Regions from separate parts of the Homo sapiens genome. Here regions 2 and 3 are each reported to be linked to region 1. Evidence: microRNA targets listed by miRTarBase, many of them from high-throughput screens and not tested one by one. Region 1 holds a microRNA gene; each other region holds the end of a gene's coding sequence.
The links. Region 1 holds the annotated microRNA hsa-miR-106a-3p (CUGCAAUGUAAGCACUUCUUAC, at 1,634-1,655, opposite strand). A microRNA usually pairs through its seed, bases 2 to 8, with sites in the 3' UTR of a target mRNA and lowers its output. Matches are read on the target gene's strand: a 7mer-m8 pairs with bases 2 to 8, a 7mer-A1 pairs with bases 2 to 7 and ends in A, and an 8mer does both.

Region 2: the mRNA of LYSET is a reported target of hsa-miR-106a-3p. The part of its 3' UTR that is shown has no 7-base or 8-base seed match.
Region 3: miRTarBase lists DYM as a target of hsa-miR-106a-3p. Seed matches in the 3' UTR shown: 7mer-A1 at 771-777.

Annotation. Positions count from the first base shown.
Region 1 is chrX:134,168,575-134,171,723 of GRCh38, forward strand. MIR106A (microRNA 106a) reads right to left here and starts at 1,704; the gene lies at 1,624-1,704. MIR106AHG (miR-106a-363 cluster host gene) reads right to left here. Exons shown (of 2, transcript XR_007068340.1): 1 at 3,095-3,149; 2 at 576-1,778. It overlaps MIR363 (microRNA 363), which reads right to left and starts at 878; the gene lies at 804-878. It overlaps MIR92A2 (microRNA 92a-2), which reads right to left and starts at 1,038; the gene lies at 964-1,038. It also overlaps MIR19B2, MIR20B and MIR18B.
Region 2 is chr14:93,186,207-93,189,355 of GRCh38, reverse strand. It overlaps LYSET (lysosomal enzyme trafficking factor), which reads right to left. Exons shown (of 2, transcript NM_001098621.4): 2 at 893-3,096. The coding sequence ends at 2,685. Among named protein-coding and RNA genes, the nearest start is that of LYSET, 2.5 kb to the right of the region's middle.
Region 3 is chr18:49,041,480-49,044,628 of GRCh38, reverse strand. It overlaps DYM (dymeclin), which reads left to right. Exons shown (of 18, transcript NM_001353214.3): 18 at 425-3,149. The coding sequence ends at 574. The region is part of intron 4 of DYM-AS1 (DYM antisense RNA 1); the gene reads right to left. Among named protein-coding and RNA genes, the nearest start is that of MIR4744, 6.7 kb to the left of the region's middle. RefSeq lists an enhancer at 1-238.

The DNA of each region.
Region 1 (3,149 bases):
GCTGTGTCTTAGTAAGTGCTAAAGTTTTAAGAACCACTAGAGGATCCAAATAACTTTTGGTGTTCAGTCTCAAACCACTAATTAGCTGCGCATGAGAAATTTCTGCTTTAGGTTAGTCACCCTATGGAGCCCCCGAACCCTAAATATTAACAGTAGGCCCACATCCAGGTTTCCATCTGCTAGACTCCAAAGCAAGGCAGCAGCCATCCCTCTCAGTAGCCCTGCCACCAAATCCTCTTCTCCGAGAACCCCAAAACAGAGTTTGATTGACAAGTTCATTCTTCTCTCCTGTCAGACCTCAAAATGTGCCCAGTTCCTTAAAGGTATGTGTCCCATTGGTTTACAACTCTTCATTCCCTTCCTAAGAATGAGCACGTGTACTAAAACAAAATTAGTACATGTCATCCAAATATTGTCAGGGTAATAAAATTCCTAAAATTAGGCATCTTGGTGCTTTATGTAGATGCAAACTTGAAAAGCAGCTATGTCCAAGTTTTCCTTTAGGATCCTCCCAAGAGATATTTTACAAACTCCTCTAGCATTGCTAATTATTTTTTTTAAAAAAAAAAGAGTCATTTTTTCAGATCTATAAATTTCATTTATTTTGAGGTTCATTCACATTCAGTAACAATCTGATCATTCACCAAAGTTCCAAAACACATACTTTATAAATTAGCTATCATAGTTTTTAGAAATCCAAATATATTTCAAATTATTTTTTAATAGCAGCAACTAGAGAAAGGATTTTTTACCATCTAGCTTACTGTAGCGCTGATCAGGAATGTCGCCAACAAAGGTCCTGCGGTTTACAGATGGATACCGTGCAATTTTTCTCCTATGATACTCATCAAAATTGCATCGTGATCCACCCGACAACAGCAAAACAGATCATTTTACAATGACTAAATATCAGAACTTACGGCTTTTAAAAGTTAAAATAAGAAGACGATAAAAATCCTCCTTTCTTCCACAGGCCGGGACAAGTGCAATACTTTATATAGAACACAAGTAATGCAACAAATCCCCACCCAGGGATGAATGGGCATGAGTGCTGGAGATACGCATGAAGGTGTGTTCACACAGACGTAGGAAGCACACATTATCACAATCAGTTTTGCATGGATTTGCACAGCCACATATACATATATACGCTGAAATGCAAACCTGCAAAACTAATTGTAAGTAGCAATGTCTTTGAATATTCTCTCCATCAACAAGAGATTTGTTATCCAAGAGTACTGGAAGTGCCCATACTACAGTAGAGTCATGCCAAAACTACCTGCACTATGAGCACTTTGGTACTACTAGGACCCAATCTTATCCTCTGTACACAACTGTACACTGCACAGTCCCCACCATCTGTTCCCAACAAACAATAAAAAGGCAAAAAACAAACCACTGAAATGTGTCCTATTCAAATTACTACTCAAGGCATACTTTTAAAATGCTGTATATTAGGCAGCCTGTGCCAGAAGGGGCATTTAGGGCAGTAGATTCTAAGCTGCTTCACTAACTGCACTAGATGCACCTTAACACAAGAGACACATTATAAGAAGCAGCTCAAAAGCATCAACTACTTAATTATGCACAAACTACAGTTCTCAGTAGCCATTGACTAAATCACCATGGTAATGTAAGAAGTGCTTACATTGCAGTAGATCTCAAAAAGCTACCTGCACTGTAAGCACTTTTACATGGCCAAGGCCTATTCCTGTAGCAAAATTTTAAGTCTTCCAGGAGCTCTTCTTTTCCGTCCTCACAGATCCATGCAGACTCACCTGGTTAAAACAACAAAACAAACACACACATATTAGAAACTAAACAAGTAAACTACTAGTTAATATTCCTGAAACAGGCTTTCCTTTGGCTTACAGAGTCTAAGCTAGGTTTTGTGGTTTCAACCAAATCCTGAGAAATATTAATAATCTCAATTATTTACACAGAATTGAACACGAATAACACTGGCAACTGCAAAAAGTCCAATTCTTATGTATAAGCAGATTTTGGACTCCCCCTCTCCATCTAAGAAAATTTGATATCTGCATCTCAGTAATTTGCAGGCACATTCTATCCACCCTGATTTTATAAGAGGAGGACCTAGAGAAAGGAGCATGTAAAACCCAGGATGAGTATTCGAGTCTTCAGATCATTCAGAGCTTTTGGGCTCCATACGGAAAGTGACTGTTAGATTAAATGAATATTCCCAGCCCCCACCCCATTAATAGAAAATGAGAGAAATTTTAGAGCTGGTTTAAGAAACACAGCCTTACAGTCTTCACATAATGCACAGATGGCTGAGAGATGTCACATTTTGATCTATTTCAAAGGGCTCTACTTCTGTTTAAACATTTATGGACCCATTTTCTCCATTAAACCAAAGTAGGCAGATTAGCTCTTCTTCCCTTCATGTCATTATCTTCCATAAGAAAACCTTCTCCCATTTCCAAGTGCTTATTTTACCTAAGAACATACAGCAAGGAAGTGAGCCTCTATGTGAAAAAGGCTCACAGGGTCCCCTATCTCTTCCATGATGGGGTAACTTTTGTTTAAAAGAAAAACAAAAACGTTTGGGACAGAATCTGTAATACGTTAAACGAGTGAGGGAATTTTAAATGTTGAACTTTCGTCACGATATCTTATGCCACTAAATGAGTCTTTAGAAGTCTTTACAAACTAAACTGATTTATAAAACTTATACATCAATCTGGAATCAATTTTCTATTAGGGAAGAATGGATTTAGTATAGAAATGAGAAAAATAACATTTTTCCCCTTAAATTGGGTTTCTACACCTGTGAAGATTTCTTTTCCATTAAAAAAAAAATACTCCAAACTTGACTCAAAATGCATAGTATTTGCCAACCCAACCTGGCCAAACTGAGCCCCACAGCCATCAGACAGGGCGCCCTTCTAGTTACTACCTTTTGCTAATTAGCGGTTCATCTGGCATCCCTCGCGCACGCTGGGCAGTCACTCTCCAATCCCCTTAAATTGCAAATAATAATAATAATAATAAGGAAAAGAAAGAAAGAAGTCCTTCCCTGTACGCCTTTGTGGCTCCCTTTTGCCTCTTCCCGCGTCTCTCACACCCTTACCTAATGCTCCCGTTGAAGTCCGCGAGCAGCCCGCGCGTCCAGGGTGTGCTCCAGC
Region 2 (3,149 bases), not on the chromosome of region 1:
CTTTCACATACTGGCTATGTGACTATGGACAAGTTATTCCTACGTGTTTCAGGTTTCTTCTGTAAAATGACACTAGTAGCAGTATAATACCTGCCTCCCAGGACTGTTGTGAAGAATAAATGTAAATCACTCATAAACAATGTCTGTAACATGCATACTGAATACTTAAAAGATGCAAGTGATTTGGTCATCTGACCCTCACAAAAACAAGTATTTCAAACTGCTGCTTACTTTGAGGATTCCACGTGTTATATCAAAAGATATATCATTTCAGTAACTAGACCTTTGGAGGCAGTGAGATAAATGAGACTAATTGATCTGAAGGATCTGATCTGCTACTTTTACATCACAAAGGTACCTGCTTTATCTTTTAAGTAACAGCTTGCTATGGAATACTCAGCCTTCCTTTCGGGTTCAGTCAGATGTAGTGGAAAGATGAGGTTGCTAGGAAACTTTCAGATTTCTAGTAGACAAATAGAGAAAAACTTGTCAATACTATTGCCATTTCCATTCTTTGGCATGACTGGGCAAAGAGTACCCAGTGCTAAAACATTTGTCATTTGTGAGAAGCGCTATGCCTCTGTGGTTAGTAACGATGGCGTTAGAATGCCTGGTTATAACCCTGGCTCTGCTACTCGCTGTGACCTTTGGCAAGTTACTTGACTTCTCTGCCTCAGTTTCCTTATCTGTGAAATCTGGATAATAATACCCATCTTATAGGGTTGTTGGGAGGATTACATTAGTTAATTTCCATAAAGCTCTTAGAATAGGGCCCAACAGAATAAGCATCAAAAAGTGTTGATTATTAAAAGCATAAAATGTTTTCCAGTATTAATGACATAACTGTATAAAAATATATCTTGATCTCATGCAGAAAAGAAATGCTACTGTGTCCATGTTTTAGTTATTTGTATTAGTACCAGATGTGAGGTAGTACAAATGCAAAGGAGAAGGTACAGGAACACATCTTCATGTAATTAACCTACTGCCTGATGACCTGACCTTGGGCCAGAAAAGAAAATCAGAAAGATTATGACTTGATAGCATCTTTTAGAGGGGTCTCATGCATCTGATAAGGACTGGACTAAATTACCTGCTATAGGCTGGCCATGGTGGCTCATGCCTGTTATCCTAGTACTTTGGGAGGCTGAGGTGTATCACTTGAGGTCAGGAGTTCGGGACCAGCCTGGACAACATGGTGAAACCCCGTCTCTACTAAAAATACAAAAATTAGCCAGGCATGGTGGTGGGTGCCTGTAATCCCAGCTACTCGGGAGTCTGAGGCAGGAGAATAGCATGAACCTGGGAGGTGGAGGTTGCAGTGAGCTGAGATCGCACTTCTGCACACCAGTCTGGGCTACAGAGCAAGACTCCATCTCAAAATAAATAACATAAATAAATACAGCTAGGCATGGTGGCTCATGCCTGTAATCCCAGGCCTTTGGGAGGCTGACGCAAGTGGATTACCTTAGTTAGGTGAGGAGTTTGAGACCAGCCTGGCCAACATGCTGCAACCCTGTCTCTACTAAAATAACAAAAATCAGCCAGGCATGGTGGTGGTCACCTGTAATCCCAGCTACTCAGGAGGCTGAGGCAAGAGAATCGCTTAAACCCGAGAGGTGGAGGTTGCAGTGAGCCGAAGGTTCCAGTGAGCCAAGACTGCACCACTGCACTCCATCCTGGGTGACAAAGCAAGGCTCCGTCTCAAAAATAATAATAATAATTTAAATAAATAATAAATAACCTGCTAGATTTTCATTGAACACATTGTTTCCATCTTCTATTTGTAAGTTATTTCTAGCCTTTCAACATTTAACACTTAGTTTCTTCCCAGATAGTTTTCTAAATCAGTAGCATTGGAGCGTACGTTCTCAGGGCCTTCTGAGACTGTGTCACAAGTCATGGAAAAAAAAAATTTTTTTAATTAAAAATAGCTGGGCATGGTAGCTCACACCTGTAATCCTAGCACTTAGGGAGCCAGAGAGAGGAGGAAAGCTTGAGCCCAGGAGTTCGAGACCTGCCTGGGCAACATAGCGAGACCCCATTCTCCACAAAAAAGAAAAATATAAAAAATAAAACCATTAAAAGCATTAATAATAATTTAGCCATTACCAAGAGGAAGAACAAATTCTGCTTATCAAGACAGCCATTTCCTCAATAATTTTTTAGCAATGCCTCATAAGCTGACAGCAAGTCTAGACAGCTGGCTTAGCTGCAATAGAATGAATCGGTGTTTTAAGTGTGAAGAATTTTAAAGCAAGCCAAGTAATTGTATAAAATTTAAATTTTATGATCATGTCTGGACCTTTTTACACTTAACACAATGGAAATGTTCATATTCATTTTTTTCCCCAAAGGAAAAATTTCTGAATCATCACTATGTTGCACAGTAGAATAGAAATATGAATTCAGGTACTTAGTCAAGTTTCTAAAGAATGCAAATAACAGACATGATTTAACTTCCAAAATCTGAAGTCATCAACATGATTTTGTAGTACTCTATCTCAGGTTTTACCTAAAAATTCGTTATTATTCAGATAAAGATAGCTCCCTAATCACATGTTTTTAAAAAGCCTCTGCCCCACGACAACTTCCTGAGATCTGTGAAGAAACTGCAGTCTTGTGATCAGACTCCATATAGGACTGGCAGTTTTGTAATCGTAGGGAAAAAACGGTGACTGATTTTACGTGTCAATCAGTTGTAGTCTGCTGATCTGATTAGAAGCCTTGACAAATGCCTGGTGGCGATTGCAAATAACTGCCAAGCATATAGGGATGATACAGTAGCCCACTGTTTTGGGATCAGCTCTTGTACAAGAGTATAGGAACAAAAACATCTGTAAGTAAGGTACCAGAAAAATAACTGTCCACACCCAAAAAGGCAAGGAGAGTAATTGAGCTTTCAAGGAGTGTGTCCATGTGGTTCCTTCAAGGGGCTCCTCAGGGTGCTGTTGAATGTGTTCCAAGGCCAGCCTGTTGTAAGTCTCACTGATTTCAAAAACATAGTAAAATGCTGCTGCACTGGCTAACAGATACAATCCCACTCCAATCCATCCCATCCGCTGACGGAAGTTCATCATTCTCCATGCTCTGTGCCTTCAAATTAAAAAAGAAAATACAATTAGGGTCTAGTAATGCTGTCACGGCAA
Region 3 (3,149 bases), not on the chromosome of region 1:
TCCTCACCTCCAGAATGGTGGAACCCTGAGGACAGTGCCTCTCAAAAGCCAGTCCCTAGCATTGCACTCTGGGGAATATCAGCCTGAGCCTTGTCTGCCTCCCAGGCAGGGTCCATGTCTCAGCTAGGATATTTCTCATCATACCTTAACCACTGTTGGGGTCCCTAGCAGGGAACTATCAGCCAAACTGACATTAGCCAACCAGGACCCATTGTGTTACTTGCTCTCTCCATCGGTAATTCACATTTTCTCAGGAGCCATTTGATAGCTGAAATATTTTAAAGCCCCAGAGCTTTCATGCCCTGTGACCAGTTGGCAGGGGTGGGTGGGCTCCCCGCACACCACAGCACCACCTGCAAACTCTCACCACTTTTGCTTGTGCATGGAACTGTGGGATTATAAAATCATCTTATTTTCATTGCAGAAATTTCCAGAATTGAAATTCAAATATGTGGAAGAGGAGCAGCCCGAGGAGTTTTTTATCCCCTATGTCTGGTCTCTTGTCTACAACTCAGCAGTCGGCCTGTACTGGAATCCACAGGACATCCAGCTGTTCACCATGGATTCCGACTGAGGGCAGGATGCTCTCCCACCCGGACCCCTCCAGCCAAGCAGCCCTTCAAGTTCTTTTATTTCTGGGTAACAGAAGTAGACAGACAGGTTACTTGGTGTATCTTCTGTTAAAGAGGATTGCACGAGTGTGTTTTCCTCACACACTTTGATTTGGAGAATTGGTGCTAGTTGGCAATAGATAACTCAGCGTAGATAGTATTGCAAAAAGGGGAGGAAATACACAACAATAATAAATGTAAAAACCTGCTATTCAACATGCAGTTTTATTTCGAAGCCAAAAATCTAGAGCTTTCCCAAGATCCTGTTGCCTTAGGCACATCACACTTCAACAGTGCACACTATCCAACAGTGCACACTATTCAACAGTGCACACTATTCAAAAGCGTAGACTATTTTTTTGCATGTTCAAGATATTTGTTTTGGTCTTATGTGTGTGTGAGAGAGAGAGATTCCTTTGACATTAAGGAGCATCAATGAGAAAAGATGATGAGGCAGGAATTAATAAAGAAATGAAGTCGTGTGTGTTTGGTTGCCTGTCAGAGGGCACACAATTTCATAAACACCATGCCTGGACAATTTGATATTAATATTTAACACCTCTGCATCTTTTCTTAAAAAAGAATATGGGCCAGATACAGTGGCTCACATTTGTAATCCCAGCACTTTGGGGAGCCAAGTTAGCAGAATCCCTTGAGCACAGGAATCTGAAACCAGCTTGGGCAACATAGTGAGATCCCATCTCTACAAAAAACTTAAAAATTAGCCAGGCATGATGGCACATTCCTGTAGTCCTAGCTACTCAGGAGGCTAAGGTAGGAGGATTGCCTGAGCCCAGGAGTTCAAGGCTGCAGTGAGCTAAGAACGTGCCAGTACACTCCAGCCTGAGCCACAAAGTGAGACCCTGTCTCGCAAAAAAAAAAAAAGAAAGAAAAGAAAAAGAAAATGGCTACTTCTCATGAAGCCCAGATTAACTTTTCTGTGAATATGGCCTGTGAACTGTTGCTGGAATTAAATTGGAGTCTAGCACAAATTAAGTTAATCTACTCTGTATTAATCATTGGGAAAAAGAAAAGCTTCATTTGAAAACAGTCTTTTTCCTTCACCCACACTAATAGAAAAAGGAGAGTAATTTGTTCATACTGTATTCCACGTGGGATGAAAAGCATGTTTTGCTCTTTGTTTCTGGGCCGGTGTGATCCGTGTGTTGGTGCCTGAGCTGGAGGAAGGAGCTTCTTGCAGGGAAACAGCCACTGGGGCCACATTGAGGGCCAGTTGGGACCTTCCTTTCCAGTCACACTCTGTGTCCTCACGGGCCCCTTCACAGTCTAGATAAGGAGCCTAGTTTCATTCTCAAAGAAAAAGTATTTGGTCTTCAACATAGAAAGCACAAAAGCCCAGACGAGACTGAGCACACTGTTCGAATCCACTGCCAGCTCATCTGTGTCAGGGCTGGCTTCTCCTGTCCTGTGTCCCAGGGCTGCAGGCCCGTGTTATTTGAGTCCATCAAATCTTCCGAGGGCCTCGGAGGAACCATTCTCAGTCACCCCAAGCTCTGTAAAAGGTCAAAACACTGGCAGCCTCTCAGTGCACCACTGTGTGGGCTCCACACGGGAAGGCCTGGCCAAGCTGTGCTCTTAGAGGCTGTCGAGGTAGGGCAGGAAGCTTCCCTATCCTCGTCTGGATGGAATGAAACAGAGGTTCCCTAAGGCCAAGGGACTCGTGGAGCGCCCATCCCGGGTGGGGTCCCAGAGGTGAGTGCAGCTTGCCTCCTGTCCCCAAGGGGCTTGTTCTGTCAGGCCTCCTCCAGTCACTGCTGGAGTGGGGACTCTGACTCCTGTGTTCACCTCAGAGCCCATGTACAGGCTAGAGGTGAGGCTTGGCAACAACTTCTACTAATACTTAGCTTTGTGGCAGAGCCAGTCTGAAGGAGGAGAAGCGCTCTCAGCCAGCAGGGGGAGTGATGATTATCATTTCAGGTAGCAAGGATATGTATTTACTATGTGGGGAAATAATTTGCAACTTTAATTTGTTTCCAAAGCATTTTGATTGGCTTCCTTTTCCTTTAAACCAAAAAATTGTTTAAATGTTTAAGGGTCATGTGGAACAGCTGAGCTTCTGGCAGGACCACAGAACTGTCCTCTGAGTCTGAGGGCTGGGCAGTGCCACAGGACAGTCCCTGGGCTGCAGGACTGTCAGTGCTTGTTGTGTGAGGAAATGAGGCCCTTCAAAAACCCAGTCATCTTGACAGAGGGCACACTCCCAAGGAAGGCCTGACTGGGGAATCATACAGCCTCTCCTCCAGGCCTCTGGGCTCACTGAGGTGCCCCCAGAACCCTGATTGCCCTCCCCTCTTTCCCTTTTCTCATTCATCACACAGTAGAAGCACTCACTAGCTAACAGCTCAGCTGGGGCAGCAGCCTCCATGGAGGCCTGCAAGTGATGCTCCCAGTCCTGGTTCCCGCTCAGGAGGGAGGCCCCACCACGTGCATCACTGCCTCAGCTCTGCAAAGTCACCAGAGGCTTCTTCCTGATTTTTGTGAAAGATTTATTATATGGCAATAAATCTGAATGATAAA